Regions from separate parts of the Homo sapiens genome. Here regions 1, 2 and 4 are each linked to region 3. Evidence: fine-mapped expression QTL. A gene starts in region 3. Each other region holds a variant in brackets. All regions are shown on one strand. Distances are from middle to middle. Region 1 overlaps ARHGEF2 (Rho/Rac guanine nucleotide exchange factor 2). Region 2 holds the start of EFNA1 (ephrin A1). Region 3 holds the start of ENTREP3 (endosomal transmembrane epsin interactor 3). Region 4 holds the start of LENEP (lens epithelial protein).

The links. PIP is the estimated chance that this variant, and not a neighbour inherited with it, causes the effect.
Region 1: its variant is fine-mapped to the expression of ENTREP3 in whole blood (TOPMed, PIP above 0.99).
Region 2: its variant is fine-mapped to the expression of ENTREP3 in whole blood (INTERVAL, PIP above 0.99).
Region 4: its variant is fine-mapped to the expression of ENTREP3 in whole blood (INTERVAL, PIP above 0.99).

Annotation. Positions count from the first base shown.
Region 1 is chr1:155,963,732-155,971,810 of GRCh38, forward strand. ARHGEF2 (Rho/Rac guanine nucleotide exchange factor 2) reads right to left here. Exons shown (of 22, transcript NM_001162383.2): 2 at 5,425-5,569; 3 at 3,089-3,156; 4 at 2,685-2,748; 5 at 1,900-2,029; 6 at 1,572-1,681; 7 at 1,257-1,400. Among named protein-coding and RNA genes, the nearest start is that of ARHGEF2, 11 kb to the right of the region's middle. RefSeq lists a silencer at 4,366-4,597 and enhancers at 6,715-6,814, 6,865-7,044, 7,055-7,104. The variant C/T (reference allele first, on the strand shown) is at 3,868.
Region 2 is chr1:155,124,518-155,132,517 of GRCh38, forward strand. It overlaps EFNA1 (ephrin A1), which reads left to right and starts at 3,359. Exons shown (of 5, transcript NM_004428.3): 1 at 3,359-3,552; 2 at 6,822-7,117. The coding sequence starts at 3,461. RefSeq lists silencers at 176-470, 3,250-3,309 and enhancers at 374-1,213, 1,214-2,053. The variant C/T (reference allele first, on the strand shown) is at 4,148.
Region 3 is chr1:155,250,836-155,258,913 of GRCh38, forward strand. ENTREP3 (endosomal transmembrane epsin interactor 3) reads right to left here and starts at 4,648. Exons shown (of 12, transcript NM_006589.3): 1 at 3,818-4,648; 2 at 3,565-3,621; 3 at 3,249-3,359; 4 at 3,024-3,143; 5 at 2,790-2,897; 6 at 898-1,070; 7 at 667-766; 8 at 260-329. The coding sequence starts at 4,042. SCAMP3 (secretory carrier membrane protein 3) reads right to left here. Exons shown (of 9, transcript NM_005698.4): 5 at 7,991-8,078; 6 at 6,663-6,822; 7 at 6,450-6,551; 8 at 5,839-5,956; 9 at 5,146-5,584. The coding sequence ends at 5,438.
Region 4 is chr1:154,987,770-154,995,834 of GRCh38, forward strand. It overlaps FLAD1 (flavin adenine dinucleotide synthetase 1), which reads left to right. Exons shown (of 7, transcript NM_025207.5): 2 at 336-1,080; 3 at 1,791-1,938; 4 at 2,390-2,488; 5 at 2,570-2,759; 6 at 4,944-5,017; 7 at 5,133-5,342. The coding sequence ends at 5,268. It overlaps LENEP (lens epithelial protein), which reads left to right and starts at 5,817. Exons shown (of 1, transcript NM_001394530.1): 1 at 5,817-6,546. The coding sequence starts at 5,839. The coding sequence ends at 6,024. The variant AT/A (reference allele first, on the strand shown) is at 3,457.

The DNA.
Region 1 (8,079 bases), 710 kb after region 3:
CACAATGATAACTCACTGCAGCCTCGAACTTCTGGGCTCAAGCGATCCTCCTGTCTCAGCCTCCCAAGTAGCTGGGACTATAGGCACATGCCACCACACCTGACTAGTTTTTTAAAATATTTTTTAAAGACGGCTGGGCACGGTGGCTCACGCCTATAATCCCAGCACTTTGGGAGGCCGAGGCGGGTGCATCACCTGAGGTCAGGTGTTCGAGACCAGCTTGGCCAACATGATGAAACCCTGTCTCTACTAAAAATGCAAAAATTAGCCGGGTGTAGTTGTAGGCGCCTGTAATCCCAGCTACTTGGGAGGCTGAGGCAGGAGAATTGCTTGAACCTGGGAGGCGGAGGTTGCAGTGAGCCGAGATAGCGCCAGTGCACTCCAGCATGGGCGACAGAGCAAGACTCTGCTTCAAAAAAAAAAAAAAAAAAAAAAAATATATATATATATATATATATATATATATACATATATATATATATATATTTTTTTTTTAGAGACAGAGGTCTTGCTTTGTTGCCTAGGTTGGTCTCAAAATCCTGGCGTCAAGTGATCCTCCCACCTCGGCCTCCCAAATCGCTGAGATTATAGGCATGAGCCACCACGCCCAGTTCCATTTTTTATCTTTACACCTTATCATCTCAAGCTGTGAGCTATTTTAGGGTAAGAACCATATGTCTTCTACATGTCGAGGCTTCCCACAGTCTCCAGCACGGTGTTAAGCGTGGAACAAGCACAGAGTAAAGACTGAAGACAGAGATAAAGAAGGGATAAAGAGAGGGTGTTGGAGACCAACAGCATCAAGAGGTAGGGACCTAGTGGGCAACCTGTGGGATACCAGGCAGGGTCTTGTAGGCCAAGAGGGAAAGGGTTTTGAGAGGTAGGGGCTGGTAGAAAGAAGGACACAGCCGGGTACGGTGGCTCACGCCTGTAATCCCAGCACTTTGGGAGGCTGAGGCGGGCAGATCACCTGAGGTCAGGAGTTTGAAACCAGCCTGGCTAACATGGTGAAACCCCGTCTCTACTAAAAATGCAAAACTTAGCCAGCATGGTGGCAGGCGCCTGTAATGAGAATCGCTTGAACCTGGGAGGTGGAGGCTGCAGTGAGCCGAGATCATGCCACTGCACTTCAGCCTGGTTGAGAGAGTGAGACTCCATCTCAAAAAAAAAAAAAAAAAGAAAAAGAAAAATAAAGAAGGAAGTAGATAAACAGGACCTGGTGAAGGAAGAGGAAGACTAGGGTGGTCTTGGCTTACCATAGATGACATCTTGCTGCTTCATCACCTCCTTTTTATGCTGCTGCAGGAAGCTGCTGTCCACAGCAAGACTCCAAGAGTCAGCTGCAAAGTCCTTCTCATCCATCTCAAAGTCACTCATCAGCTCACTGTAGATTACCTCTGCTGGACATTAGCAGGGCAAGCAACTCAGAGGTCTTGAGTTCCCTTCCCTGGGTCCCTGGCCCTTCTCTAGATCCCTTCCCTCCTTGTCCTTCCAGGCTACTCCCACCAGCCTCTCATCCCCCAGCCCCTCTTCATGTTCCTCAGGGCTCCCCTGGGCCCAGGCCTGCTCACCTTCGTCAATGAGGGATTCCACGGATAGGGTTCGGTTCCGCATGTTGAGGGAGTCTGTGGACTGTGAGAGGATCCGGCGCAGCCCCAGGGGAGACTCATCATTGAAATGTCTGAAGAAAGTGGAGGCTGTCTGCATCACCCCCAGTCGGGCAAAAGATCCCTTCCCAGGTAGGGAACCAAAGCCAGGATCCAAGAGGCGGTCCCCCTAAGTTCTCCTTATTTGTCTGTCTACAGTTCTGAACTCAGGGATGGAAAGGGACCTCTCAGCACCCCCTTGGCCTCCACTGCCACACTCTCTGGCTGCCCCTTTCCCCAAACAGAGGCTCACCCAGCAATGTTGGTGGTAGAAACACTCTTGGCTAAAGACAAGGAGGAGCGGCCACGGCGGGAGCCCAGGAGGGACTGCCGGAAGCTGTCGGAGGGGTAGATGGCCGAGCTTGGCCGCTCCCGGATGGTTGCTGTGGGGGAGAGATGCCCAGCAGGCAAACATCAGACTCTGGTGCTTCCCAGGATTGAGGCCTCCTAGGCTCCTCAATGAGGAATGAGGCATCCTCTCACTCCACCTCAGCCCCTCTAGTCAAGAAAGATGGTAATGAGAATGCCACCTTACATTTGTGCCATACTCTAATGTTCACAAAGAGCTTTTTCTTACTTATCTCCTCCCTGACATAAGCCTATAAACAAACAGGAGCTCAGAAAGACAAAAAGACTTGTCCAGGGTGACTTGGGTAATGGCTAGGCAGGGACTGAGGCTCTGCTCTTTATACCTAAGGGCCATGCTCTTTCTGTTACACCAAAGCTGTCTGAATTGACACTTGACAGCTGCTACCAACACTCCCGAAATGCAGTGTAAATAACTGATAAAAATGCAGGCTGCGGCCAGGCTCAGGCGACCACCCATCCCCAGCCCTCATCCCCATTCGGACTCTCTCTCCCCTTCTGCCTCTAAGTCCAAGAGTCCGAACCCTCCCTTAGGCCCCCACTATCTGCTTCCAATCAAGAAGAGGAAGGTGCTATGCCTGGGAACAACCTTAGTGGGGCAGCAGAGCCCATGGGTTGAGCAGCCTGGGGTCCAGGGTCTTAGGGGACCTCCTCCACTCCCCAACTACTCACTCTTACTTCGAAGAGAAACGGACTGCAAGGCGGTGTTGTTCTTCAGCAGGGCCGCTTTCTGTTGCTGTGAGACAGAGAGCAGGAGAGAGATACCAAGAATGGCTGTCACCCAAGGATCACCCCCAGAGGCATGGGACAGGAGCTAGGTGGCCGGCCCCCTTAGGAGAAAGCTGGCACTATGGTTAAGGGGATCAGGGTGATTGAGCCCAGTGCTGTGGGGACATGTCTGCAGCAACAGGCCTGGCCTACTTGGGGCCCGAGGCCTGGGGTTGAGGGTCTGGGCTGCCCCTTGGTGAGGAGGTGGGTGGTGAGAAACACAGGGTAGGGAATGAATGGAAAAGGCATGAGGGTACCGCACACTCACTACCCTCTCCCCCAGCCCTCTGCCCTCCCTGCCGTCTCACCTTCTGCTTGACCTTGGTACAGTTGGCGAGGGTGTCTTTACAGCGGTTGTGGATAGTCACATTGCAGGCTGGGAGGGTGGGGTAGAGAGGGTGAAGGGAGGGCCGGGTGGTACAGGAGGGGACACACCCACATGCAGACACCCATCTCCTCCTGGCCACACAGTCCTCGGGGACTCTCCCCCCTTCCCCGACTTCTGGGCCATTACCACACCCCAGTCCCTCTCCTCCCACCTCCCTCTTCCTTCAAGCAGGAAATGAAGTGAGGGGGGTATAGGTGCTGAATGAAATTAAACAATCAAGTGGGATGGGCAATCCTGACCCCAAGGTGGCCTGAAGGGCGGACCAGAGGGGAGCAGGGGTCACTGGCTGCCAGAGATGAGCTCAAGAAGCACGAAGGTGGTTGCGAATGGCAGATGGAAGAGAGGACTCCCACAGAACAGAAGATGGCACAGAGGCAGCCAGAATGGGGGCTAGGGGCAGAGGGGAAATTTACATTCCCTGAGCTTTTATAATAGTAAATGTTCCACATTTACTTAATCCTAACCACCCGTAGAGGGAGGTTCAGTTATCCTCATTTCATGTATGAGGAACCTGTCCTGGAGTGGCTAAATCGTCCATCAGAGGTCACACGGCTAGTGGGAGAGGTGGTGTTTACACTCCGGTGGGCCTGAATCCAAAGGCCGTGCTCCTTCCCTCGCACCACATGCCCTGGACTCTGGCTGGGCCTCAGCAGCTCCAAGGCTGATTGATGGCTCCAGTGGTAAAGAAGGGACAGGCAA[C/T]TCCCCACCAAGCCTGGCCTTCTCCCTTCCAGGCCCAGGGAGTCCTGTTCCCCCAACTCAGGCAAATCCACAGCTCCCACACTCCATCTGCTTCTCCGCCATCCTCCACCCCACCTTGCCATGGGGTAGGAGAGAAGAAGAAAGGAGGATTCGCTGAGCCTAGGCACTGGGACCCTGGCCGTGCCCTTCCCAGACATGCCCTCAGCTCCCGGCCCTCTCCAGCTTCCCCTCCCCCATCCAACAACACCGGAAACTCTGCTAACTCTTTCAGACAATACCCAGCACCACGCTCACTTCCACAAATACAAGGCAAACAGGGTGGAGCAGAGGGGGCAGACAGAAGTGGGGGTTGCAGCTGCCCCCACCCCCCTGGAGCTCCCTTCTCCTACCCCCAACACTCAGTGTCTCTGGATTGAACCTCCGCTTTCCACCTGCTCTCAAAATAGTGCTGCCCGCCTCCCCTGTTCCCCTGGCAACAAGCTTCCGGATTGGGAATTTTGTCAGGTCTCTATAGGGATCTAGATTGGGGTTCCCTCCTCATCCTCACAACTCTAAATTGAACAGTGAGGAAAGTAGGGAGGCTTCACTGGTTTTCTTTTCTTTCTTTTTTTTTTTTTTTTTGAGCGGTAGCAAGCTTTATTGTGAAGAGCAAAATGACAAAGCTCCCACAGCGTAGAAGGGGACCCGAGCGGGTTGCCCATCACTGGTCCTTTCTGGGGGTTCCTTCCCCAAGTTTCATAGGGATTTACAGGCTAGAGCTTTTGTCCGCTATTCAGTAGCAGGTCACAATACCTTCAATCCTGCTCTAATCAGAGGCATCTCTGCCATAACTTCAGGAGGAATTGAGGGAGAGGGGGCAGCAGGAGCCCTCTGTGTACTGGGGAAGGAAAGAATTCCTGGCTTATACTCCCTAAAGACAGGACTACACTCAGATGTGGATGAAGGGCAGGAATTCTAACCCCTGCCCCTCAACACACACATCCCTGCTACATTCCCTCTTTCTCACTAGAAATTTGAGATGAAGGGTCCTAATCACATCTTCTGCTTGAAACAGCAGAGATTTCAGGCTCCACCCATAGTCAATAGAAAGAAAGGGGCAAGGGGACTGTGAAGTCCTGAATGCCCAGCTCTGCGCAGGAAGACAGGCAGAGCCAGCTGCAAGGCTGGCAGCTTTCCACCCAGTTCCTCTGTCACCCCCCACCCCACCCCCTCCACACATACAACATTCCTGCTCCTTCTCCAATCAGTTCCCCTAACCCTTAGCAGCTGTTCGGGGAGCAAGGGGGGTGCCTGGTGGATGACAGCTGCAAGAGGAGCCAGCACAGCCTCCCCTCCCCCACATTCCCAGATAGTCCGGCTTATGCCATATTCCAACAGCCACCACCCCTCAGAGTGAGGACAGGGAGCAAGGGATCAAGCAACTGGCCCTGGCATTTGGGCCCAGCTGGGGATCAGAGAGAAGAGTGACCCTCATGGATCCAGGCAGAAAAAACAGATGAAAAGATCAGGGTCAGTGGGCACCGAGTCTGGGTGACTCTCAGGGTCCAAACAACTTACTTGGGCAGATGAGGGCTTCCTTGGCTGTGATGCTCTTGTTACAGGCATAGCACATGGTCATGCCTGAAACTGAAATGGTGGTGAAGAGGTGCCCATTGGTATAGCGGGCATCCTTGGCTTCCTTCATCTTCTCCTTTTCCCGGGTCTGTGGAAGGGATGAGAGGGAGAGGAAGTGAGGCTGGAAAATGCCAGGGTGCCTGGAGTCCAGAGAGACAGGCTGGGGGCAGAGGCAAGGAAAAAATGCCAGCCTGAGGATGCTGGAAAGACACCAGTTCCTAAAGCAGAGCCTGCAACTGGGTGTCAGAGGCAGCTGTCCGGGAGTGACCAGGCCAGGCTCTGGGGCAGCCAGCCCGGATGGGTTCTGGGTCCCTGACCTACCTGGCCCCTACGGCTGGGCTGCCTCCTGTTGCCACTCATCTCCCTGGCTCTAGGTCTCTGCGTCCTCACTCCACCTTCCCAGCCCTAGCTCTGCTCACCCCCGAGCTGCTGTACTCTCTTCTCTGTGCTAGGGGGAAGATGCGCAGAGAGGAGGGGAGAGCAGGCGAAGCGGAGGGTGCCAGCTCACCAGCGCTTTCCAATCTATGGGAGTTAGCTCCTCTTATAACCATGACAACCAGTGTTGGATCTGCTGTCTCTGTGGCAGTCACAGTGGGGGGGGCAGGAGATCCCCTTATTAGATTGGCTGAAGGGGGCAGAATGCCTCCCCTGCCACCCCCAACCCAGGGGTCAGGATCCCAGACCTCTAACTCTTTTCACCAACCCTCAGCCACGGCACACAGGGCCTGTCTGGGAGGCAGCATGTCCCCTACTAACCTTGAGGCAAAGGCAGCTAGCTGCCTTTGGGTCACTCTTCCACTCTGGGATCTTTAAGTAAGGAAGCTCAGCCAGCCATCTTGGTTGCTTCCAGCGGAAAATCTCTCCTGCAGTCTAACTTTTATCCCTCTCATACTACTTTCCAGAGTTAAAACCTAGGAGAGTTTCCTCTATTGCTCCTTACCCAACTGGTCTCTCCCATCCTAGGAAGTCCTTTCTGACATCTACCCTCCATCCTTCAGTGTTGATCTCCGCAGATGGCGCACACCTTCCTCGGAGCCTCTGAGCCGCATTTTCCATCTCTGCTGTCTCCCATTTCCCCCAGTGCCCCTGCCTCTGCAAGTCAAGTCATTCTCCCTGACCTCCAATCTGTCCCTCTTCAAGCCCCTGTGATTCCCAAAAAGCCTGAGAAGGTGAGAAGAGGGGGATATCACTCTTCCCACTATTCTAGGACCTTCCTTAGTTGTGACTCTGATCTCTGGATTTTCCCTCCGCTCTTGGAGCAGGACTAGAAGCTGAGAAGACCACTCCCTCCAAGGTTTCCCAGGCTCTCAGAAATCAAAAATCAGGATCCAGATGGCTGAGGGTAGAAGCCCCAAGTCAGAGGACCTGGACTGGGGACAGAGGATTACAGTTCAGCGGGAAGCACTCAGCCCGGACTCTAGGAGACCAGTACTGACTCAGCCGAGGCCACGAGGCCACGCCAGCAGCTGAGAGGTGGAGGAGGGGAAGAGATGCACGGGCCTGGTGCTTGGGGCAGAAAATGGTAGAAAGAAAGGGGAAGTGTGGAGGGGCTGAGTCAACAGTGCAGGGACAGAGGGCATGGGGCTGCAGTGCCTGGGCCCAAGATCCTTCTCTTTCCTGCCTCTCTTCCCAAGCTCCAGGTTTGCCTGATGATGTCCAGAGCCCAGAGGTCTTGGGGTCAATCCCTTCTCCCCTCATGCATCCTCCCCATCCCCAATCATCCATTTTTCGCATCCTCCTCCTGTCTCCTGCTCTCTCTATGTCCTCCCTTCTCTTCTCAGGGTCTCCCTCCTAGGCTCCTCCCGCTCTGCCTTCCCTTTCTCAGCCTTGCTTCTCCGCCACTGTTCTCCTCTCCCGCCCACAGCCTCTCCTCCCCTCCTCCTCACGCAGGCCAACTGCTCCTCTACCTAGGCTTATTCAGGAAGCTGAGCTGCCTCTAGCCTCTAACTCAAACCTCTAAAATGTTCTGGCCTCCTTTTTTCTATTCTGGCACCTACCTACCCGGACCACTAGAAAATGCTCCCTTTGGTCTAACCTCCACCTATCTTGCACCAAATTATACCTCTTTAGAAGTTCAAATTCAGGCTGGGTGCAGTGGCTCACACCTGCAATCCCAGCACTTTGGGAGGTCGAGGCGGGTGGATTACCTGAGGTCAGGAGTTCGAGACCAGCCTGACCAACATGGTGAAACCCCATCTCTACTAAAAATACAAAAAATTAGCTGGGCGTAGTGGCAGGCACCTGTAATCCCAGCTACTTGGGAGGCTGAGGCAGGAGAATTGCTTGAACCGGGGAGGTTGGAGGTTGTGGTGGGTTGAGATTGGGCCACTGCACTCCAGCCTGGGCCACAGAGTGAGACTATGTCTCAAAAAAAAAAAAAGAAGTTCAAATTCACCTTTGAATAATAACCTCACAGGACCTCAAACACCAAGTCCAAAAATCTCTTCCCACTGCCATATACTCTCCCTTTTCTCCTCCTCTCCTGCCCTCCCAGCCTTCTATATAACTCAAACCAAAAGTTTGAGCATGTATTACATTTGAATTAAAAGCAAGAGGCCGGTGAGGTGGCTCACACCTGTAATCCCAGCACTTTGCGGG
Region 2 (8,000 bases), 130 kb before region 3:
ACGACAGAGATTGCTCTCAGCCCAGGTTCTGCTCCTCCCCCTGCTGCCTCACCCCATTGCCCAGAGATGACCCCTGGGGCTGAGCCAGGTTTCACTTGCCCCAGGGCCCTGCAGCTCTGGCCTTCCCCTCCCCAAACTGCAGGGCACCCAGCAAAGGAGTCGCAATCCAGTACCTGCACCTGTTCCCAACTGGAAATGCTGCCTCCAGGCAGCCAGGGCCTACCCCAAGACCTCAGAGGAATTTCCTCTGAGGAAATTCCTGCCCTCCCAGGAATTTCCAGAAAGGACTCATGGAGGAATTTCCTAGACATGCAGACAGGCAGACAGACAGACACCTCAGGCAGCTCTCGTCACTAAGCGCAGATGTTTGCCTGCGGGTGACGTGCTGGGAGCCAACACAAGCACACAATTTTGCGGCGAGAGGCAGCACGAAGCAAGAATGGAGAGCAGACCCACCCGGGCAGGCTGGGGGCTGGCATGAGGAAGGGACTGGGAGGGGGCCCCAGAGTTGGTCAGCAGATCGAGTCTCCAGGAACAGAAGTCCCTACTATTATCTCTGTCTGAATGGCACAGTGCCCTGCAACTCTCCTCTCAGCACAGCAGGCATTGCAGGGGCTCCAGGAAGGGTCAGGGTAGTGTGACTGTGAGTGGTAGGGCCGCAGTCTGGGCTTGAGCACTTAGCAAGTTTGCTGTCCTGGTGGCTTGTCAATATCCCCTACCGGCCTGGGGGCTCCCCAAGGTAGTGATTTTATCTTAAACCCATCCTTACACTCTCGGTGCCCATCGCAACACCCAGCTCATCACAACACTCAGTGTCTAGGGCTGCTCCAGTAGGGTGGATGATCGACCCCCATATGGATAGGGGAGTGGATAGAGAGTGATGGGATCAATGCCCTAAGTGAGATGAGAATACTGGGGACAGCACCAAAGCAGGGAAAGAGGGCTCCGGGTCCTGTCGGTGCGCAGAATTTCCATGCACGCTTCTGCACCCAGCTTGCTCCAGACCTAGACGCAGGCAAGAGCTGACGTGGCCCCGCCAGACTGGGCCCAGCGAGCCCGAACCTGCCTGGCCCAAGCAGCTGCAGCGTGGGACTTCACACGTCCCCGCCCAGTCCCAGTGGTCAGAGAAACCAGGGAATCCGGCCCAAAGCTGTCTCCTCCAGGAGGCAACCCGGGCCACCTGCTCTAAAGAGCTACCAGCATCCCTCCCCTCTTCAACCCCCCTGCTGGCTCCTTTTCAGAACAGTTATGTCCAGCAGAAGTTAAGTTCCTTCACTGAACAGTGAGTGATTTCACTCACTCCACAGATATTTACTGACCATCTACTGTATGTGCTAGATGCTGTGCCAGGTGCTGGCAGTAAGATAATGAACAAAACAAAAACCCATGTCCTCCTGGAGCTTTGACTCTATGGAATGCCCGAACTGGGAGGCAGTACTCTCGCCGGGGCCACGTGGGAGGTCGACACCCAGGTGTCCTCCTAGGTGAGCAAAAGGCGCGTGAGGTGCCGCCCTGGGAGCAGTCGGCGGGTGGACTTCGTCCTGGGCGAGAGGAGCGGGCCGCACCTCGGACAAACGCTTGGCTGGGCACGTCGCCTGGGGCAGGTGCCCGAGGGAGAGGGGGGTGGCGCTGGCCGTGCGCAAAACCCGGCCCTGACCCGGCCACGGGGTTAGAGGCCGTTGGTACTCTATGTTTATTGTAAACGCAGCGAATACGGCCTCCAGCGGCCTCAGCGCACGTGGTGGTGCAGTGGGGAGCCGGCTGGGCCCTCCCCAGCTCCAGGCTCCTCCCCGGCGGGGTCAGCGCCAGACTTGCTGCGGCGTCCGGGCCCCGCGTAATTACAGGGGCTGTAGCCAGGCCTGGCCGTAAAATAGGAGGATGAAACGGCCTGGGAACTGGAGAAGCTGGGCCGGAGCTGGCCAGGGGCCCCGGGTCCGTGGCTTCCCGCGATGCGCAGCCGCAGGGAAGGGCCGGCTGAGGATGCGCACACACACTCACAACACCAACCTGGCGCGCACACAGCCACACAACCACACACGTAAACCACCAAACGCACGCAGACACACAGCATTCGGCTCTCCCACTCCAGGCTCACTCGTGAGCCTAATCAAACACCTGCCCGCCCTCTCCACCCCAGGAGCTGACACCCGCCCGCCAAGCCCTCTCCAGACGGCAGCAGATCCAGGCGGGGAGAAGAGCCCCGAGAGGCAAATTCCAGTGGGTTTGTTTACACAGCGCGGGGGAGGGGGCCTGAGCCGGGTACTGGGGCCCGACTGACTGGGAGCCCCAGCTCAGACTGGGCCAGCTCCAGCTGTGCAGCCTGAGGACTGCGCACAAACGCCCCTCCGTTCCACCCCACCCCCGCTGCACGCCGGTACGCGTCTCCCCTCCTCTTCACACGCTGTTCACAAACATTAGCATACGTCTGTCAAAGAGTTTCACACGCTTCCACACACGCGGCTGTGATACTACTCACAAATGCTTTCATGCTAGCGCGCCATCACACGTATTTCATGTGTGGTTACAGTTTGTCACCCTTCATGCCCAGATTCTCACAGTCCATATTCAAGAGCCTGTTCGCACGGTGTACGCGTGTGTTGTTACATATACTCAGGTTATTAGCGCTCTTTGACTTATCTAAAATAAGAACGGCCCCCTCTCGAGCCCAGGGTCCCGCGTGTCGCTCCTGCGGGCAGGCACTGATGTGATGGACAGAGGCGTCCTTAGCCCCGGCCGCACACGTTACACACTCGATCACACAAAGCGTTGCACTTTATTCCCGGCATCTAGGCGATGACACAATCTCCAGAACAAAGACAACATTGACAAACCCAACAAAAACAAACAGCCGCGTGTGTGTGGGGAGGGGCAGTCAAGCGCAGAGTCCGGGAAGGGGATGGGGGAGGAGGAGAGTGTGGGAACGCGGGCGCCCGAGCCTGGGCATGCGAGGCTCAGAAAGGTGCGGGGCATGTCAACAACCTCGCACCCTGCAAGGTCCGCGCGCGGAGCAGCAAAGCCGTGTCCCGCACCCCCGCGTTCGCAGACTCGCACTTGCGAGTTCTTCCCTTCTCCCGCACGCGACTGCGCCCAGGGACGCAAGCCCACCACCGGGACAGGCTCACAAAGCTCCACGCAGACCCACAAGTGAGCGAACACACATCTCTGAGCAGATCTGCGGGGGCAGAGGAGCGCGCTTCGCTCTTTCCTGCACCCCCAGCCTCCTCGCCTCCCCACCCCGCCCCTCCTCCACCTCCCCAGCCCCCAAGCCCCCAGGCAGCCGCGCGCCGGGCGGGGCGAGGGCGGGGCGGGGTGTCGGGCGGCGCCGGCCCAAAAGGCGGAGTCGCTAGGCGAAGGGGCCAGATCTGTGAGCCCAGCGCTGACTGCGCCGCGGAGAAAGCCAGTGGGAACCCAGACCCATAGGAGACCCGCGTCCCCGCTCGGCCTGGCCAGGCCCCGCGCTATGGAGTTCCTCTGGGCCCCTCTCTTGGGTCTGTGCTGCAGTCTGGCCGCTGCTGATCGCCACACCGTCTTCTGGAACAGTTCAAATCCCAAGTAAGCCTCGAGACTCCCGCTGGCAGCCTGGGCTCCCGGCTGGCACTACCCCACCGGGATAACTGTCCCGGCCAAACCCTGAGCTGAGCCTAGAGTAGATGACCGAGGTAGGAGGGCGGCTGTAGATTTTCCTCCCCTCACTTCTCCGTCATATCTGGGAGCACCCCACCCCGGGGCATGCTTGTGTCTACTTGCATGGGCTTATATCTGCCCTTCCCTTCCTTCTCTCTGGCACCCCTATTACTCTAAAGTGAGGGACTCATGCTGGGCAGTTCCTGCCTTCAGCATAGACTTCGCCCCTGGCAGCCAGGGCCCTTGTTCCAGGCCCCCCACCCCCCCACTGTGAAAGCCTCCACGCCTCTCCTTGTGTGTCCTTTGGGTATCTGACCACACTGACAGATACCTGGTGTGACATCAAGAGTGCACAGAATGCTCAAGGTAACCCTGGAAGGACCTCTCAGGAGAGAGCTGGGCTGTAGGCATTCATTATGCATTCACCCTGTATTTAAAGCAAACCTGGAAAGTCCCTCACTAGGGGTCTTTTGGGGTGGCATGAGTGAGGCACATGCTGTGCATGGGTAGGCTGAGGGAATCA[C/T]CTGTTTATGGGGCTCTCAAGTAGTAAAAGCGAAGAGCTGGGAGAGGGAGATCATGGGAAAGCTTCAGAATGAACAGAAGAGGTTAAAGGGGTTACAGAAGGTTCTGGGCAGGAAGGAGTTAATTTCTCCTGGGCAGGTTTAGGGCTGTGAGGCAAATGGTACTGGGAGGAAGACTCTGTCGGCCCCTTTGTTCTTGCCCTTGAGTTTTCTGAAGTTATGGGAACAATATTTGAGGGAATACAGGAGAGGGTGGTAGGGAGGAGCAGGGAGAGAAGTGGGCAGCTTGGTATCACGAAAGCCATCTCACCGGCTTAGCCACTCTCGGCCCTAGCAAGCTTGCCCCCCACTCCCCTTGAGAAATATGTTGTGCCAGCTTCCTCTGACCCCGTGTCATCGTCTGGTGAGGCAGTCTGTTGTCTGTGGCTTGTTAGGGTGGGGGAGAGAACAGCCAGCTGCCAACCCCAGAGGGCAATGCCCTCCTGCCCATGGACGCTGGGGAGGCTCAGCCAGCCCTCCGCCACCCGCTCCCTGTGCTTTGCCTCCTTGACCTGATGCATCTCGCCCTAGTATGGGAGAGAGCAAAGTCCCTGTTTATGCCCATGCCAGGTGTTGACTGGAGGAGGAGGAGGGGACAGGAAGCCATGAGTAGGGAGGGGGGGACCCTGGCCTTTTCCGTTCCCAAGCTCCCAGGTTTCCTCTCTTTCAGGAAGGAGCCTCTTCCTTACCCACCTCCCCGCCTTCCCTGACGCCGCTGCCCCCCTTTCCCAGATGGGGAGCAAGAGTCAAATGAAGGCTAAGTACAGCAGACTGTACCCCCAGGAGAGGGGGCTGATGGGTGACCCTCTGGCCACACACACACACACACACACACACACACACACACGCACACCCTATCATACCCAGGACTAAAGAGACGCCAGTCCAGAGTAGAGTCCGTAGGCAGCCAAGCTGGGCCCAGCGTGGGGGCAAATATGAGGCTACAATGAACGGGGTAGGTGAGGCTGGCATGGGTGACTCAGGCCAGTGGGCAGCAGCCCTGGGATCTCCAGGCCTCAGGCGGGGGCAGCATGCTGAGAAGGGCGCCAGCCTCCCTCATGCTGGAGGGCAGGCCCCTCATTCTGACCTGCCAGCTCCCTTTGTTTGGAGGACACTGTTGGGGGTGAGTGGGCGCTGTGCCCTCCTGGGGTCCTGGGGGCTGTGCACATTTGACAAGGTAAGTTTTCACAAGTTCTCATGAGTGCTGGGGCGGGTAGCAGAGGTGGATGAGGAATGAGTCAGTGCCCGTCACGGGAATGAGGGAAAGACGCCAGGCCCAGAGCTGAAATACCTGTTCTGAAATGGCTTCTATGTTTATCTCTCCAGAGAGGAATTTTAAAAGCCTCTCTCTGCTCCTCTCTTTTCCCCAGGGTGGGGGAGGGGCCTGGTAAGCCCAGTTTGGGCGCTGGCACGCTGCTGCAAAGCCTGGCCTCTCAGGGGTCATGCTGATTGGGCAGTGGGTGCCCACCTCCGAGTCCTCTCTGCCTGACTCCTTCCTCGCCCTCCCAGCCGTGGCCAGGGCTTTCAGTTCGAAGCAACTTAGCGCTAATTCTGCTGGGTCTCTAGCTGGCAGTGCCTGGGGGAATTAGAGAAACTGACCAGCTTGCGGGGTCGGGGGAAGCACTTTTCCCCCTACTGGGACCCCACCCAGGCTGGAGCCAGGTGTCTGGAGCTGGTGGGGAGGGGCTGGTGGGCAGTCAGGCTGGAGCCGGTGGGGCCAGGGGGAATGAACTAGGGGAGGGGTGCTGGCTCCACCTTGGGAGGAGGGGAGAGGAGGGGAGAGGGGGAGAGGAGGAGAGAGGGGAGAGAGGGGAGAGGGGAGAGGCTGTCTCAAGCTCAAGCTCAGAGCTCCAGCATTTCATCTAGGGGGAGGTGGAAGTGTGGCTTTTAGAGATAAAAGGACAGGGTTGTTTTGGGGTGCTCTGAGAAGGGGAAAAGGAGACCAGTGTATAACTTTGAGTAGCTAGAACGGGAAGATTTGAGGGGGCTGAATGAATTGATGAGAGTGATTTAACTTAAAGGACTGGGGCATTATCTGTGGGCCCGGGTATACTAGCTTCACTTTTGAGGAAAAGTGAAGCTGGGAAATGTGAGATCTACTCAGTGGGTCCGGGGAAATGTGAGAGGAGTAAGGAAAGTGAAGACACAGATGTGTTGGAGGCTCCAGGCTAGCATGGTAAAGAGAAAGGGTTTCCTGGATTCTGATTACAGAATGGACCTGTGGGGGTCTCAGATTGAGGCCTAACAGCATTTAAAAGGAGCAACTGGTAGAACAGATTTGGGGAAATATTTATGGGTAGAAGAGAATGATAAGTGAGCTACAGAAATAGGTAGAAGCCCATCTAAATATCAGGTAAGTATCAGGGGGGTTATGGAAAATGCTTTGGTACCCGAAAGATACTGAGTGAATGCTATTTGAAGGACCAACAGGAGACAGTGATGGTGCAGGGGAATGTTTAGAGATGGCAGAGAGAAATGTAAGACATCAAGATCAGTACATATTGGGAGTTGAAACTTCGGAAAAATCTCTTGGGGTCCAGTGTGAAATGTGAGAGGTCATGTAAACATTCAGAGGCCCAAGGATCTGGCCTGGCTTCTGAATGACCACCTGCTTCTTCCCCCTGTGTGTGTCCCCAGGTTCCGGAATGAGGACTACACCATACATGTGCAGCTGAATGACTACGTGGACATCATCTGTCCGCACTATGAAGATCACTCTGTGGCAGACGCTGCCATGGAGCAGTACATACTGTACCTGGTGGAGCATGAGGAGTACCAGCTGTGCCAGCCCCAGTCCAAGGACCAAGTCCGCTGGCAGTGCAACCGGCCCAGTGCCAAGCATGGCCCGGAGAAGCTGTCTGAGAAGTTCCAGCGCTTCACACCTTTCACCCTGGGCAAGGAGTTCAAAGAAGGACACAGCTACTACTACATCTGTGAGTGCCTGTGAGGGGACAGTGTCTGTGTTTCTTTTTTGCCATTACATACATGCTTGGGTACATGCTTGGTGTAGAGTCCAGCAGCAGAGGGCCCCTTCCGATCTTGAATTCTATTTTCATTCATCTACATCCCAATGTGAGTGAGCTTCTACTATGTGCTGGGCACTCTGTTTAGCGCTATGAGCACAAAGATAAATAAAACACTACAGAGCCCCTGTCCTCAAGGAAGCTGGGAAGAAACACACATAGGTTAAGAGACCCTTAGAACAGTGTGCTACAGTAGACATGAACACAGGGGCCTTGGGAAAATGACCTGGGCACCTGCCAGGCTATGGGGCTCAGAGAAGGCTCAGTGGGGAAGATGGTCCCAGAGCTCAGGACAAGCAGAGGAGCTGGCCAGGCATGAAGGCACACGTACAAAGGGAGCATGACATCTTCAGGGAACTTCCTGTGGCTCAGCCTGGCTGGAGTTGGAGGGACACAGGAAGTGAGGAGATGTGAGCCTGGAGAGGTGGACAGAACAGACCATGGGGGAACTAAAAGGTGATAAGGAGTTTGGACTTTATCCTGAGGGCTCTCGCCACTGATGGGTTTTATTTTATTTTATTTTATTATTATTATTACTCTTGAGATGGAGTTTCACTCTTGTCGCCCAGGCTGGAGTGCAGTGGTGTGATCTCTGCTCACTGCAACCTCTACCTCTCGGATTCAAGCAATTCTCCTGCCTCAACCTCCCAAATAGCTGGGATTACAGGCACCTGCCACCACGCCCAGCTAATTTTGTATTTTTAGTAGAGATGGGGTTTCACCATGTTGGTCAGACTGGTCTCGAACTCCTGACCTCAAGTGATCTGCCCGCCTCAGCCTCCCAAAGTGCTGG
Region 3 (8,078 bases):
GGGCGCTGTGTAGCACCAGCCTGGCCTGGCCTAGCCCTGCCCAGGCAGTTCCTCTTCTCCCAAGCCCAGCCTCTAGGGGCCACTGTGCCTCCAGCTTTATCTCAGAGGAGAAAAATAAGTCCAGGGTTCCAAGTTGCCACAGCCCTCCTATGTCCCCAAACCACCAACTCCGCCTTGTTTTCCCCTTCTATTGTCTCTACCCACCCCAGCTATCCCTGGCAGCCCCGCCCTTGTCCACCCCTCATTACGCCCTGCTCACCGTCTACAATGGAGGCCACTCGTTCACAGATGCACGAGCCATCGTGAAGCTGAGGGTCAAAGAGAGTGGCCTGCAGAAGACACAGGGTCAAGGGTTCAGCCCTACACACTGAACACCCCCATGTGCTAGACAGAGCTCTGGAGACTTAGATTCCAGACCAGCCTTGTCCCTTTGTACAAGTCACTTAATTGTGCAGCCTCAGCTTCCACGTCTGTATGGCAGAAATGATAGCTTCCAACCCACTCACCTCACCAGGCTCTAGGGAAGATCAAAGGCAACAGTGGGCATGCTGGTGCTGTAAAGACCTTGACCACTGTTACTATCTTTATCCAGAGGCTACAGCCTGTTCAGCTTTCCAGGCTACAACCCGGCTCCCCAGCCCGCCCCAAGCCGTGCTGTGCTCTCACCTGGCTGTCTCCTCGTAGTCCCATGACTGCCTCATAAGAAGGGGGGCAATCGGTAGGGTACAAGGGCACTGGGCTGTCCATGGAGCCATTGTACGTGATGCTGGCAGATGAGGAAGAGGGTCAATGTAGGAGAAATAATTCCCCCTCCACAAAGATCCCTCTCTCCAGCAATCCAGGCCCAGCCCCAGTCCCCTTCCTTAGCTCCCCCAGCAAGACCCCACCAGGCCTTACCTCTGTGCATCTGTTTCTGAGCTGCAGGTATACTCTGGGGGATAGTAGGGCGGTGGGGGCACAGGCGGGACAAATTCCTCCAGGTCCAGCATGGTGTGTAGGAGAGGGGCTGGGGGCGGGGACGTGCAGCCCAGAGGTCCCAGTGGGCCTGAGACTGACCGCTCAGGGGCCAGCTGCTGGGGAAGCGAGCAGGTCAGCAAGTCTGGATTCTGGGAATACAGCTCCTCCTGGGCCCCCAAACTCCTCTCTCATCTACATTATTTTTTCTGGCCCTATCCCCTGAGAGAAGCTCTTGTTCTGGCCCCTCCCTCACCCAAAATCAGCTCTCCTTAACCCCACGCTCACCCTGTACCTCTAGCTCTGGCCCTGCCCACCCACAAATTCCTCTTTATGGCCCCACCTCCATCCAGAAGCTCCACACATTCTGTGTCTTCACAGGAATGTCCACCCTTTAGCCTCACCTCCATCTAGGACCTTCTTTTTTTTTTTGAGACAGAGTCTGACTCTGTTGCTGGAGTGCAGTGGCGCGATCTCAGCTCACTGCAACCCCCACCTCCCAAGATCAAGCAATTCCCATGCCTCATCCTCCTGAGTAGCTGGAATTATAAGGGTGTGCAACCATGCCCAGCTAATTATTATTATTATTATTATTTCGAGACGAAGTTTCACTCTTGTCGCCCAGGCTGGAGTACAATGGCTACATCTCAGCTCACTGCAACCTCTGCCTCCCAGGTTCAAGCGATTCTCCAGCCTCAGTCTTCCGAGTAGCTGGGATTACAGGCACCCGCCACCACACCCGGATAATTTTTGTATTTTTAGTAGAGATAGGGTTTCGCCATGTTGGCCAGGCTGGTGTCAAACTCCTGATATCTGGTGATCCTCCTGCCTTGGCCTCCCAAAGTGCTGGGATTACAGGCATGAGCCACGGAGCCCAGCCTAATTTTTGTAATTTTGTGTGTATATATATATATATATATATATATATATATATTTTTTTTTTTTTTTTTTTTTTTTTTGAGACGGAGTCTTGCTCTTGTCGCCCAGGCTGGAATGCAGTGGCACCATCTCAGCTCACTGCAGCCTCTGTCTCCCCGGTTCAAGCAATTTTCCTGCCTCAGACTCCCAAGTAGCTGGGATTACAGGCACCCGCCACCACACTTGGCTAATTTTTGTATTTCGTTTGTTTGTTTTTTGAGATGGAGTCTTGCTCTGTCGCCCAGGCTGGAGTGCAGTGGCACTATCTCAGCTCACTGCAAGCTCTGCCTCCCAGGTTCATGCCATTCTCCTGCCTCAGCCTCCCGAGTAGCTGGGACCACAGGCGCCCGCCACCACGCCTGGCTAATTTTTTGTATGTTTAGTAGAGATGGGGTTTCACCATGTTAGCCAGGATAGTCTCGATCTCCTGATCTCAGGTGATCTGCCCTCCTCAGCCTCCCAAAGTGCTGGGATTATAGGCACGAGCCACTGCGCCCGGCCCGATTTTTGTATTTTTAATAGAGACAGGGTTTCGCCATGTTGGCCAGGTGGGTCTTGAACTCCTGGCCTCAGGTGATCCGCCTGCCTGGGCCTCTCAAAGTGCTGGGATTACAGGAATGAGCCACCGTGCCCAGCATAGGACCTTCTTGACTCTACCCCACCATCCAGTCCCATTCTCTAAAGCACCCTCTCCTGGTCCCAGACCAGCATCACATACTTAACTCACTCCCTGCCATCTCCCCTTCTCATCCTCCCCACTAAACATCCATTCCTCCAATAGATGAGGATAATAGATAACCCATAGCCCCTGGTGCTCAAAAGCCAGATCTGTAGCCATTGTTCCCTCAGGCAAGTCTCAGCACACACACCCCTGCCCCCACCATACCTGCGTGCCCTGGCCCCTGCTCCCTTCTCACCGTATGCACGAGGTCCAGGGAGAAGATTTGGATGCAGCAGACAATAGCAGAGAGTGTACAGATTATAGCGGCACAAATGGTGAGCCCACAGACGCTGAAGAGCAGGTTCTGGGGAAGGGAAAGGAGGAGAGGAGTCAGGAGACGGCTAAGTTCCACACATTATGGGCCTGTGAGTACCCCAGCAGGGGAGGCAAGAGTGAGAACCAGGAGGATGTTTGCAGGGTGCAAGCTCACCTTGAGGGCCCCTCGGGCTTCATCACAGGTGGAGTTAGGGGCAACTTTCAGTTCCTGCCCCGACTCTGGACAGGGCCGGAGGAGGGGAACAGAGGGACAGCACACACAGACCTTTCCTTCCTGAGTGGAGCAGGGAGGGTGAGGCAGCCTGAGTCAGGACAAACTGAGGTGTCCTGCACACCTCCCCCAGCCAGTTCTTTCCAGCTCTCCCTCCTCAAATCTCACCAGAGAGCACTGTTGGAAGTCTCGGGCCAGTTGAGCATTCTTACAGGAGAGAACAGAGCCAGCCATGCTAAGCATGACACAGAGCACCGAAAGCAAGGAGAAGAAGGAGATCTGGGGAAAACAGGGTGCAGACTCAGGGCTGGGACCCTCATGAGTACTCCTCTGCCACGGACAGAGTCCCCCTCCTTCACAGACACTTCGTGCCCACCCGGCTGGCACCAACTGGGGAGCCAGTTCCCTTCTTGAGGACATAAATGGGCTTCCCCTTGCGTGCTGGGCACCTGCCTCCCAGTGGGCACTGGACCCTGGCACCTACCACTAGAGTGAATGGCCGCTTCCAGGACACAATGCCAACCACCCCGGAGAACGCCAGCTGGGGACAGAGTGGGCACAGGCTCAGCCTGGCAGGGGAGGCTCCTGAGTGAGCCCCTCACCACAGGATGCACCCAGCCCTGTAAGGAGGCAGAGGACCAGGAGAGGGAGGAGAGGCAAGCATGTGGACTTGCAGCTGGTGTGGAGGGTGGGGCCCGAGGAGCCTCCCCCACCCAACAACTGTGCACCCAACTCACCGAGAACCCAGCCCAAGACGGGCAGGACCTCTTGATGCTCTCGGTGGTGGTGACGGAAGAGGCCACCATGCTGAAGGTGACCACCAGGATGCCCAGGAGCACTTGGACCAGCCCCAGCGTAAGCAGGGCCTGCAGCCAGGGTCGGTGGAGGCGGAGGTGGGTAAGGCCCCTGGTGCTGGGCCGGCTGGTCAGCGAGCGGCTGGAGTCACTAGGCGAGGGCATCATGCCTGCTGCCCGGTTGCCTGCGCCTCGCTCGGCCCTCCCTGGCACTTGGGAGCATCTCAGAGGCGCCCAAGGCCCCGTCCTTTCTCCTCTCCACCCCACTCGCTCTAGAGCCCACCCCCTGGCTGGGTCCCCTGGGGCATGGCCGAGGGACGCCAGCTGTGGGGGGGGCCAAGCGAGGGGCGTCACGGAGGGACCGCGGAGTGCTCCCTCCCCACCACGGGCACTGGACGGGCACCGTGCCCGGGGCGACGATGAGGACGCGGGGGCACCGGCTCATCGCATCTCCCTAGGGAAGAGGGGCACCGAGAAGGGCCGGTCCAGGAGTGAGGAGGGGGCGGCGGCCTGGAGCCCAGGGAGGGGTGGGGAGGGTAAAAGCGGGAAGGATGGAAATAAGTCTAGAGAAGAGGGGAGGGGTCGGCGTGGGGTGACTCTAGAGGCGCGGTCGGTGTGCCCTCAGGGCGTCCAGTAGGATCCGGGGCCGCCTGGTGGGGAGAGGCCGCGGCGCCGCTGTCTCCTGTGTCGCCTGTCCCGCTCCCCTCCCCACCACGCTCCGCTCCCCGAGCTCCGGCTGCCGCAGGTCGGGGACTAGAGAAGGGGGATGGGAATGGGGATGGTGCGGGAAGGAGGGGCATGGCGGCGAGGGCCGGCGCGGTGCACCCCGGGAGTTGTAGTTCGGGACTGAGACCCTGTCGGGGTTGGGGGATCCCGCGGCAGGGCGAGGCAGTCGGATAAGCGCTCCTCCAGTCCCTGCCTCGCTCTGGACCCTGGCTAGGCTGCTAGTGATCCTTTGGGCCTCCACTTGAGCCCCATCCAGCTTTTCAGGCTCCAGGCCCGCGTATTCCTTGGCGTTCCCGGCAGAGGCGGTGGCTCTTCCCCGTCATTAATGGAGAGGGGTGGGGAGCAGGGCTCCCTGGCGTCTCCGGGTTTCGCGTTTCCGTGGACTTCCCACCTCCTTCCTGCGCCAGCCACTCGGGCTCCACCGCCCCGCCCCTCATATCTCCCAGTTTACACTAAAGCCGGGTCCGACCTTCCCACCTCACTCCACACTCTCCTTTCTCTTTCATAAGGCCTAATTCCCAATGAAGATTCAGGAAACGGGGATGTCAGTTCCAGTTCCACTTTCTTTTTATTTAAATAACCGAAGCAACAGCCGTGGCACAGCAGAGGGAAGCTGGGTTGGGGCGTGTGAGAGGTGGCAGCAGTGTGGCCTGATGGGGGGACTAGGTCACAGTGAACTCCCCACACGCCTGTCAGGTTCAGCAGTCATGGCCATAGGATTGGGAGCACTACGGAGGAGCCATCAGTTAGTGATGTCTCTCCAAGTCCCAGAGACCTTAGGGACGGGAGCTAAGTCAGCTCCCTCAAGTAGCAGGGCCAGGGCATCCCAGTCAGGGGTCACGGGGCCCGGAAGGCATTTTCAGCAGCCCCAGCGGCTGCATTGGCAGCTGCGGTTCGCACCGCAGGGTTGGAGAAGACACCAGCAGCAAATTCTTGCTGGGCCTTCTGAAAGCTGGCACCTGTGCGGCGGTATAAGGAGTGGATCTGCAAGTAGAGGACAAAGACATTACCGCCCATTCCAGCCACTGGTTCCCCACCCCAGCCTAACAGCATCACTACCACTCAGCAGCCTGCTGCCCAGCACACACACTCACACACAGAAACACACACCCCAGAGGTCCATTAGCTGAGAACAACCCAGCAGCCTGACCTGTGCCAGTTGCTCCTGAATGTTCCACCCACGCCCCTGGGGACCCATGATCTCACCATCCCGGCCCCACCTTCGACACAGCCCTCACCCGTTTCAGCATGACAATTCCTAGCACAGCAATGCCAGTGAAGAGCAGGGCGACCAGCAGCATGAGCACGGATACTGCTGTGTTGCCCTTCGGCACCACCAGAGCAGAGATCCAGCCACTGTAAAGGGAAGGATGTACCAGTGAAGAGGGGCTCCTCAGCTTCTCCACTGGTTATGTCACCAGCATCCCCTGTTCCTACCCTTCCCATCAGCAGTGGCTCCCTGTCAATCGAGCAGCATTCCAAGCACCACAATCCCAAACTGTATCTAATCTCTTCATAGTTTAATTCCAGTTTCTGAACCATTAGCCCTGAGCTCTCCAAGCTCTTCCAGGCACTCATCTGGGGATTCTTCTTCCTCCTTTCAACCATGGTTCTATGCCTCCTCCAGGAAGCCACCTTAGATTGGCCAAATGCAGCATTCTTCCCTTCAATCTATATGTGTCAAGAGTGCTGTCTGCGCTCTATCCTGGAAGTATGTCTTGTATCTCATTAAACTAGTACCTCCCAAGGATTAAAACCACATTTCCTTTTTCTGAACAACTCCTATCCCAGCACCCAGTGCTGGCTGGATCTAGAGGGAAAGGTGAGGGTGGATAACAGCCTCACAAACCTGAATCCCCAACCTGGGATACCAATGGCCTGGAGGACAAAGAGCACATCCTGGACGAAGAAAATGAAGAAGAAAACGAAGAAATTGAATGAACTGTCACTCCTACAAAGAGGAAAAAAATGGGGAGGGTGGGAGAAGAATTAGAGCTGAAGGATGGGCAGACGTGGGGCCCATCCCAGGTCTCCATCACTCTCCCACCACTAACACACTTACCGGAAAGCCTTATACATGGGGCGGTACCAGCAGACAAAGGAGCAGGGAGTGAAAAGGAGGACCCAGAGGATAGAAAGCCCAAAGCCTGCGCCATTGTTGGTTTCCACACAGAAGCTGGCCAGGCAGGCGAGGAAGTTCAGGAGAAGAGCCAGCGTGCTGCCTAAGGGGCAGAGGGACAGGATGAGGAGCCCTTCTGGACTGCAATGAAGGCTCCTTCCCATCTATGCTCATCCTATAATATTCACCAAACATGGCAGAGTAAGGAAATGAAGGCAGCTGCTGCCTTCATGGAATCCTCAACAGGGGAGATGGAGAAAGCAAATGTCAATAATGTGTGATCCCCTTGCAAAGACATTTTTTTTTTTGAGACGGAGTCTGGCTCTGTCGCGCAGGCTGGAGTGCAGTGGCGCAATCTCAGCTTACTGCAAGCTCCGCCTCCCCGGTTCACGCCATTCTCCTGCCTCAGCCTCCAGAGTAGCTGGGACTACAGGCGCCCGCCACCACGCCCAGCTAATTTTTTTTTTTCTTTTTTTTTTTTTGAGATGGAATCTCGCTCTGTCGCCCAGGCTGGAGTGCAGTGGCAGGATCTCGGCTCACTGCAAGCTCTGCCTCCTGGGTTCACGCCCATTCTCCTACCTCAGCCTCCTAAGTAGCTGGGACTACAGGCACCCGCCACCACGCCCGGCTAATTTTTTGTATTTGTAGTAGAGACGGGGTTTCACCGTGTTAGCCAGGATGGTCTTGATCTCCTAACCTCATGTTCTGCCCACCTGGGCCTCCCAAAGTGCTGGGATTACAGGTGTGAGCCACCGTGCCCGGCCTTTTTTTTTTTTTTTTTTTTTTTTTTTTTTTTTTTGAGATGGAGTTTTGCTCTTGTTGCCCAGGCTGGAGTGCAATGGCATGATCTTGGCTCATTGCAACCTCCACTTCCCGGGTTCAAGTGATTCTCCTGCTTCAGCCTCCTGAGTAGCTAGGATTACAGGCATGTGCCACCACGCCCAGGTAATTTTGTATTTTTAGTAGAGATGGGGTTTCTCCATGTTGATCAGGCTAGTCTCAAACTTCTGACCTCAGGTTATCCACCCACCTCAGCTTCCCAAAGTGCTGGGATTACAGGCGTATACCACTGCACCCAGCCCAAAGACATCTAAAGAATTCAAAATATATTCCTGCATATGGACAATAAAAAGTGGGGAGAGGGCAAGAACATTTGCTAGCAGGCTGGTGAGTTCTAAATAGAGGTGAAGTGTTTGGTTCTTGGTGAGCGGACCCCAGGGCAGTTAAGAGATCTACCTGTAACTTCCTCCAAAAGGCTTCTCACTACTCACACATCCAGAGGTAGTACATGGTGGATACAGTCTTCTGAAATTCTTGGGGGATCTCCATGGAGATGTCCTGGAAAAAGCAGGGCTGAAC
Region 4 (8,065 bases), 260 kb before region 3:
CTACAAAAAAAATTTAAAATGAGCTGAATGTGGTGGCACGCGCCTGTAGTCCCAGCTACTCGGAAGGCTGGGGTGGCCCTTGAAGCCAGGAGGTTGAGGCTGCAGTGAACTGTGACTGAGCCACTATACTCCAGCCTGGGTGACAGAGACCCAGCTTTAAAACCAAACAAATGGATTTTCCCACTCTTGTGTCCAGTCCAGGCCCCTCAGCAGCCTGAGGTGGTGTCCTTCAAAGAGCAGAGCACTGCATCATCAGGTGGATGCAGCCATCATCTTCAACCCCTCCCCTTCATCCCTACAGTACTGATGGCCTCATCTTCCCCTTCAACCCCCAGGGACACACTCAGGACACCAACACCTTCTTTCTGTGCCGGACACTGCGCTCCCTAGGGGTCCAGGTTTGCCGAGTCTCAGTTGTACCTGATGAGGTAGCCACCATTGCAGCTGAGGTCACTTCTTTCTCCAACCGCTTCACCCATGTCCTCACAGCAGGGGGCATCGGCCCCACTCATGATGATGTGACCTTTGAGGCAGTGGCACAGGCCTTTGGAGATGAGCTGAAGCCACACCCCAAGTTGGAAGCAGCCACCAAAGCCCTAGGAGGGGAAGGCTGGGAGAAGCTATCATTGGTGCCCTCCTCTGCCCGCCTGCATTATGGCACAGATCCTTGCACTGGTCAACCTTTCAGATTCCCTCTGGTCTCCGTCCGAAACGTCTACCTCTTCCCAGGCATTCCAGAGCTGCTGCGGCGGGTGCTGGAGGGGATGAAGGGACTATTCCAAAACCCAGCTGTTCAGTTCCACTCAAAGGAGCTATATGTGGCTGCTGATGAAGCCTCCATCGCCCCCATTCTGGCTGAGGCCCAGGCCCACTTTGGACGTAGGCTTGGCCTGGGTTCCTACCCTGACTGGGGCAGCAACTACTATCAGGTGAAGCTGACTCTAGACTCAGAGGAAGAAGGACCCCTGGAGGAATGCTTGGCCTACCTGACTGCCCGTTTGCCCCAGGGATCGCTGGTCCCCTACATGCCCAACGCTGTGGAGCAGGCCAGTGAGGCTGTATACAAACTCGCTGAATCAGGTAGGGACCTTATGGAGGAGGGGCATTATGCCCAAAGCCATTGGTGGCACCCCAGATCTCAGTAATGCAGGGGCTGTTGGGTGCTTCCTGCAAATCCCTGAGAGGGCAGAAGATAGCTTCTGTTAATTCATTATTCTTCCAATAAATGTTGATTGAGTACCTATTTTCATCAGCACTGTGCTAGGTGTTGGGGATATGGCTCAATAGGATAATGTATGCCCTGCTCTTATGGACCAGTGTTTTAACAAAAAAAGATGGACATTAAACAGGTGATCCTGCATGGGGTGATGAAAGGAGTGATCTCCCACAGCAGGGAGATCAGCCTTGATCTGGGGTCAGAGAAGGCCAAATGACATAAACTGAGTGATAAGGAGGATTTGATCAGTTCAGTAGGTGGGCAAGAGCCAACAGTATGAATGAGGGCCTGCAAGGAAGCAGCATGGGGTTAGGGAATGGAAGGAAGCCCACACCCCACACCCCCTGCTACAGAGGAATGACACTGAGGCTACTGTGAGGTGTGGCTGGGTGGCAGATGGCAGGGCAGGTCAGGGGCAGACTGCAGGGCCTAGCGGGCAGCATGAAGGAGTTTGGACTTTATCCTCAGAACACTGGGAAGATATTGAAGGGTTTAAGCAAGGGCAGCATGCCTTCACTCCCCTTTGATAGCCATATGTGTCCATCTGATGCCCTCTTCCCTGCCTGCTTGGCAGGGTCTTCTTTGGGGAAAAAGGTGGCAGGTGCCCTACAGACCATTGAGACCTCCCTGGCTCAGTACAGCCTCACCCAGCTCTGTGTGGGCTTCAACGGGGGCAAAGACTGCACTGCCCTCCTGCACCTCTTCCATGCAGCTGTGCAGAGGTGAGCCTGCCCCCGGGAGACAAGACCCCTGATCTGTTTCTCCAGTTCCACATCCCAGAAAGCAAGGAGAAAGGGGGTGTACAGGTGGAGTTCAAGAGGGAGATAGTCATGGTGACCTCTCAGTTCCATTCTCCCACCATATTGAGTATATGATATGTGCCTGGCCTTGTGTATGGATGTGCAGGCCACTATCCCTGACGACAGGGAGGTCACAGTCCTGCTGGGGAGATGAGAGATTTACATACCTGAACCAGGGATGCGTGCTTAGATTTGAGAGGTGAAAGGTCAGAGTGGGCTTCCCAGAGGAAGTGGGTCTAATGGATGGAAAGGACAAGGAAAAGGGAGAAGGGGTGAGAGTCTGTCCTAGGGGCCAACGAGAACAGTGAGCTGTTTCAGGGGAGCCATTTCCTTGTCCATGCTCACAAGCCTGTGGATTCTTCCCCCTCTGCAGGAAATTACCTGATGTTCCAAACCCCCTCCAGATCCTGTATATCCGCAGCATCTCCCCTTTCCCTGAGCTGGAACAGTTTCTACAGGACACTATCAAGAGGTACTAGGGGCCTGGAGGTTTGGGCTCCAAGAGAAGCTTGACAGAGCCCACGCCCGACCCCTACTTCTGTTTCTTCCTAAGGTATAATCTGCAGATGTTGGAAGCTGAGGGCAGCATGAAGCAGGCCCTGGGTGAACTGCAGGCACGGCACCCCCAGCTGGAGGCTGTCCTTATGGGCACCCGCCGGACTGACCCCTACTCCTGTAGCCTCTGCCCTTTCAGCCCCACTGACCCAGGCTGGCCCGCATTCATGCGCATCAACCCACTGCTGGTAATGGGGAAGAGGGTTTATCACCTTCAGTCTCACGTGCCCCAGCAGTCACTGCACCCTAGCTCACCTGCAGTAGTGGGGAGGCTAGAGCCTGGAACCTGGATGAAGGGGCCTCATCATCCAAGGGAGGCAGTGCTATCTGTTCATTCATCCTTTTGACCAATATTTATTGAGCCCAAATTCAATAGCAGGCATTGCACTTCCTACTGTGGATAGAATAGTGACTTAGACTTGTGCTGTCCAATATAGCCATTAATTATTTATTTATACTTAAATTTTAATTAATTAGAATGAAATACATATGACTAAAAACCACTGAATTATATACTTTAAAAGGATGAATTTGATGGTATGTGGATACCTCAATTTTTAAAATTAAGTACAATTAAAAATTCAGTTCTGGCTGGGCGCAGTGGCTCACGCCTGTAATCCCAGCACTTTGGGAGGCCATGGTGGGCAGATCACTTGAGGCCAGGAGTTCGAGACCAGCCTGGCCAACATGGCGAAACCCTGTCTCTACTAAAAATACAAAAAATTAGCCAGGCGTGGTGGCCTGTAGTCCTAGTTACTCGAGAGGCTGAGGCAGGAGAATTGCTTGAACCCAGGAGACGGAGGTTGCAGTGAGCTGAGATGGCACCACTGTACTCCAGCCTGGGCAACAGAACAAGACTCTGTCTCAAAAAAAAAAAAAAAAAAA[AT/A]ATATATATATATATGTATATATATATATACACACACACATACACAGGCCGGGCGTAGTGGCTTACACCTGTAATCCCTGCACTTTGGGAGGCTGAGGCAGGTGGATCGCCTGAGGTCAGGAGATCGAGACCAGCCTAACCAAAATGATGAAACCCAGTCTCTACTAAAAATACAAAAATTAGCGGAGCGTGGTGGCAGGCACCTGTAATCCCAACTACTCAGGAGGCTGAGGTAGGAGAATCACTTGAACCCAGGAGGCAGAGGTTGCAGTGAGCCAAGATGGCACCACTATACTCCAGCCTGAGCAACAGAGTGAGACTCCGTCCAAACAAACAAAAAAAAAATACAGTTATTCAGTTGTACTAGCCACATTTCAAATGACCACCATATTAGACAGTAGAGATACAGAACATTTCCATCATCACAGGAAGTTCTGGCCAGGCACAGTGGCTCACACCTGTAACCCCAGCACTCTGGGAGGCCGAGGTGGGCTGATCAATGCCTGTAGTCCCAGCTACTCAGGCTGAGGCGGGAAGATCGCTTGAGCCAGGGAAGTCGAGGCTGTAGTGAGCCATGATCATGCCAGTGCACTCCAGCCTGGGCAACAGTAAAGGCCCTGTCTAAAAAAAATAGGGCTGGGCACGGTGGCACACGCCTGTAATCCCAGCACTTTGGGAGGCCGAGGCAGGCACATCACGAGGTCAGGATTTCAAGACCAGCCTGACCAACATGGTGAAACCCCATCTCTACTAAAAAAATACAAAAATTAGCCGGCTGTGGTGGCGCATGCCTGTAATCCCAGCTACTCAGGAGGCTGAGGCAGGAGAATTGCTTAAATCTGGGAAGCGGAGGTTGCAGTGAGCCAAGATCGCGCCACTGCACTCCAGCCTGGGTGACAGAGCAAGACTCCGTCTCAAAAAAAAAAAAAAAAATAGGGCCGGGCATGGTGGCACACGCCTGTAATCCCAGCACTTTGGGAGGCCGTGGCGGGCGGATCATGAAGTCAGGAGATGGAGACCATCCTGGCTACACAGTGAAATCCCGTCTCTACTAAAAATACAAAAAATTAGCTGGGCACAGTGGTGGGCGCCTGTAGTGCCAGCTACTCGGGAGGCTGAGGCAGGAGAATGGCATGAACCCGGGAGGCAGAGGTTGCAGTGAGCCAAGACCACGCCACTGCACTCCAGCCTGGGCGACAGAGCCAGACTCCGTCTCAAAAAAAAAATAGACGGTTTCTCCCTGTCCTCAAGCTCCACCCTTGCACTAGAGGGTGGTTCAAGAATGGAAAGCAGAGAGTGGAGAAGATGAAGTCCTTCTCTTTCTCTTTGCATACATAGAGCAAGCTATACCAGAGAATCAGATAGCAAGCCCTCCCTCAGAGGCCAAGGGAGCAGAAGAGCCATGGATGGGCCCCTTCCCAGGACAGCAGGGGTAGAAGTGGGAAAGGTGAGCATTTGTGACTATTCTATTACTCTGACCTCCCAGGACTGGACCTACAGAGACATCTGGGATTTTCTGCGTCAGCTGTTTGTCCCATACTGTATCCTGTATGACCGAGGGTAAGGGTATTAGGGGAAGGGAATGGGTAAGGGAGTTTTTAGGGTGCTGGGATAGGGAGGGCCAATAGGATCGCCCACCCTACCACATGCTTGCCCTCCACCCTCCCTGCTCCAGATACACATCACTGGGGAGTCGGGAGAATACCGTGCGGAACCCGGCCCTGAAGTGCCTGAGCCCAGGAGGACACCCCACATACCGTCCAGCCTATCTACTGGAGAACGAAGAAGAGGAGCGGAACTCCCGCACATGACCTCCCACCCTAGGAGGGAGGGAAGGACACCGTCCTAGGGTATAACCTGGCAATAAACCGTGCCTCTCACTGTGCCTGTTGCTCTAGCTGTGTCTTCCTGCTCCAGAGGATGGGAGAAGCAGAAGTGGGTCAAATGCTGCCAGCTCTGACTGGCTGTGCTCACTCTAAGGGGCCCAGGGGCAGGGCAGAACAGGCTGGAAAGGAGCTCTCACTGATGGTTCTCAATGTCAGCCTCAGCAGGAGCCCACCAGAGGGCGAAAGCAGGAGTTGTGCCAACCACTGGGAAAAGGGCAATCAGGCAGGGCACCACCTGGGCTGGAAGAGGGGAAGCTGCCTTGGCCTAGCTGTGGAGGATGAAAGATGGAGTGGCCAGGCCCTCCCTCCCACTAACCCCACCCTCCCATCCCTGTCTAGAGGGGCTGACTCAGCCTGTTCCCAGGCCTAGAACCTTCCCTTTGCTAGACCCTGGATCCTTTGTCTCTGTAGTCATGAGGCTGAAGGGGGTGGGGACAGTGTTGATAAAAGGCACTAGAGGCAGCTCCCACACCCTTCCTCGGAACTGTTGCCCACATGCAGCCCCGGACACAGCCCCTAGCCCAAACCCTACCCTTCTTCCTCGGAGGGGCCCCTCGAGACACTGGGCTGCGGGTGCCTGTCATTAAGATGGGCACAGGGTGGGAGGGCTTCCAGCGGACCCTGAAGGAAGTCGCCTACATCCTCCTCTGCTGCTGGTGTATCAAGGAACTGCTGGATTAATGGTAGCAGGGAACTGCCTCCTCTCCCCACCAGCACCATGGCTGGCATCGCTCAGGTGGGCAGGGTAGAGTAAACAGGAGGCATAGCTGCAGCTTCTGTGGCAGAGCTTGCCTTAGCTTCTCATTCTCTTCTTTAGCCCCCAGCCCAATTGCCATCAAGACTCCTGAAGCCAGCTGTGCTTGACCAAGGATGGGCCATAAACAATGAGTAAACAGTAAAGTGTGGATCCTGCTTTGAGCTGTGTCATCTAGCAGACCTGCCTCATCTCTGAGCCTCCTTCATTCCCAACCCCTGCCTCTGGTGGACCTCTGGTGGGCAGGAGCTTGGACTGCTCTGGCTAGGACCCCAGTAAGATTGTGGCAAGACCTGGCACTCCTCCAAGCTTGGCACAGTGAGCCCACCAGCTCAGATGGTTGATCTTACCATACCCTCATAGTACCAAGAATGGACTGCCCCCTAAGAAACCTGTTTGAGAATCACTGAATTATAAATATAATCCATAGGCCTTGAGGCCCAAGATTATAAGTGTCTAAAGGGGAATCAGAAAAAGTCAGCACTAGAACGGTCTGGGAGCAAGGGTGCAGACCAGGGAGGGAAGGAGCTTGTCCTGAATAGAACCAAGATTGAAAGCCAGGTTTTCTGACTCACTGGTTCCTGAGTGGGGAGGGTGGAAGACAGTTCAGGTTCCTCTCAATCTGTGGGTAAGGAGGGGACCCAGCTTGAGTAGGGTCTTCATCTGTGAGGCCAAGGGTGTGTGGAAACCCAGAGGACCCAGCCCTTTCCCAAATAGAAGACCTGGTCCAGGCAGCTTCCTGCCTCTGAGGATCTTGGGGAAAGCACTGCGCTGAGGCTAGTCCCCAGCTCATCAAGGAAGTAGGACCCCATGAGCTACAAGAGCTCCCAGCTCACATACAAAGTTACCAGAGAAAGACACCTGTGTGGCCACACAGGTCCCTCAGGCTTATCATGACACAGCCCTATCAGGACATAAACAGCTAGATTGAGCAGAATTGGCTCTTTACTTCCTCTTGGTAGCCACAGCTGGTATTTTCCATGAGTTACTCCCGGTGGTAGATATACACCAGCCATGTGTATCGTCTTGCTCAGGGGGTGCTTATGCTTACTGATCTGCCCACCCACAGCCCCCCAAACCTCAGAGCCAGCCTGTTTGGGACTGTTCAGTATTTCCCTGGGATTCCCATCCAGCATTCTCTGGCCCCTCCTGGGGGGCCAGTTATCATCCCCCAGCCCTTTGTCACTTGGGGCACTGGCCTGGAGATTATAGATAGTGCCCTCTTCCTCCCTGCCTGGGACCAGCTCTTCCTCAGCCTTCTTCTTAGTTAACTCTTTTTTTTTTCTAGATTCTTTTTGTAAAGGTGATATATGCCCAGAGTAAAGAACTTTAGGCCAGGCCAGGTACAGTGGCTCACACCTGTAATCCCAGCACTTTGGGAGGCAGAGGCGGGCAGATCACCTGAGGTCAGGAGTTCTAGACCAGCCTGGCCAACATGGTGAAACTGCATCTCTACTAAAAATAATTAGCTGGGCGAGGTGGTGAGTGCCTGTAATCCCAGCTACTTGGGAGGCTGAGACAGGAGAATCACTTGAACCCGGGAGGCAGAGTTTGCGGTGAGCTGAGATCATGCCACTGCGCTCCAGCCTGGGGGACAAGAATGAAACTCTGTCTCAAAAAAAAAAAAAAAAAAAAAGGCCGGGCGCGGTGGCTCACATCTGTAATCCCAGCACTTTGGGACAAGGCCGAGGTGGGTGGATCACTTGAGGTCAGGAGTTCGAGACCAGCCTGGCCAGCATGGTGAAACCCCATCTCTACTAAAAATACAAAAAAATTAGCTGGACGTGGTGGCACATGCCTGTAGTCCCAGCTACCTGGGAGGCTGAGGCAGGAGAATGGCTTGAACCCAGGAGGTGGAGGTTGCAGTGAGCCAAGATTGCACCATTGCACTCCAGCCTGGGTGACACAGCAAGACTTCGTCTTATAAAAAAAAAAAAAAAAAAAAAAGAACTCTAATAGTTAAAAGTC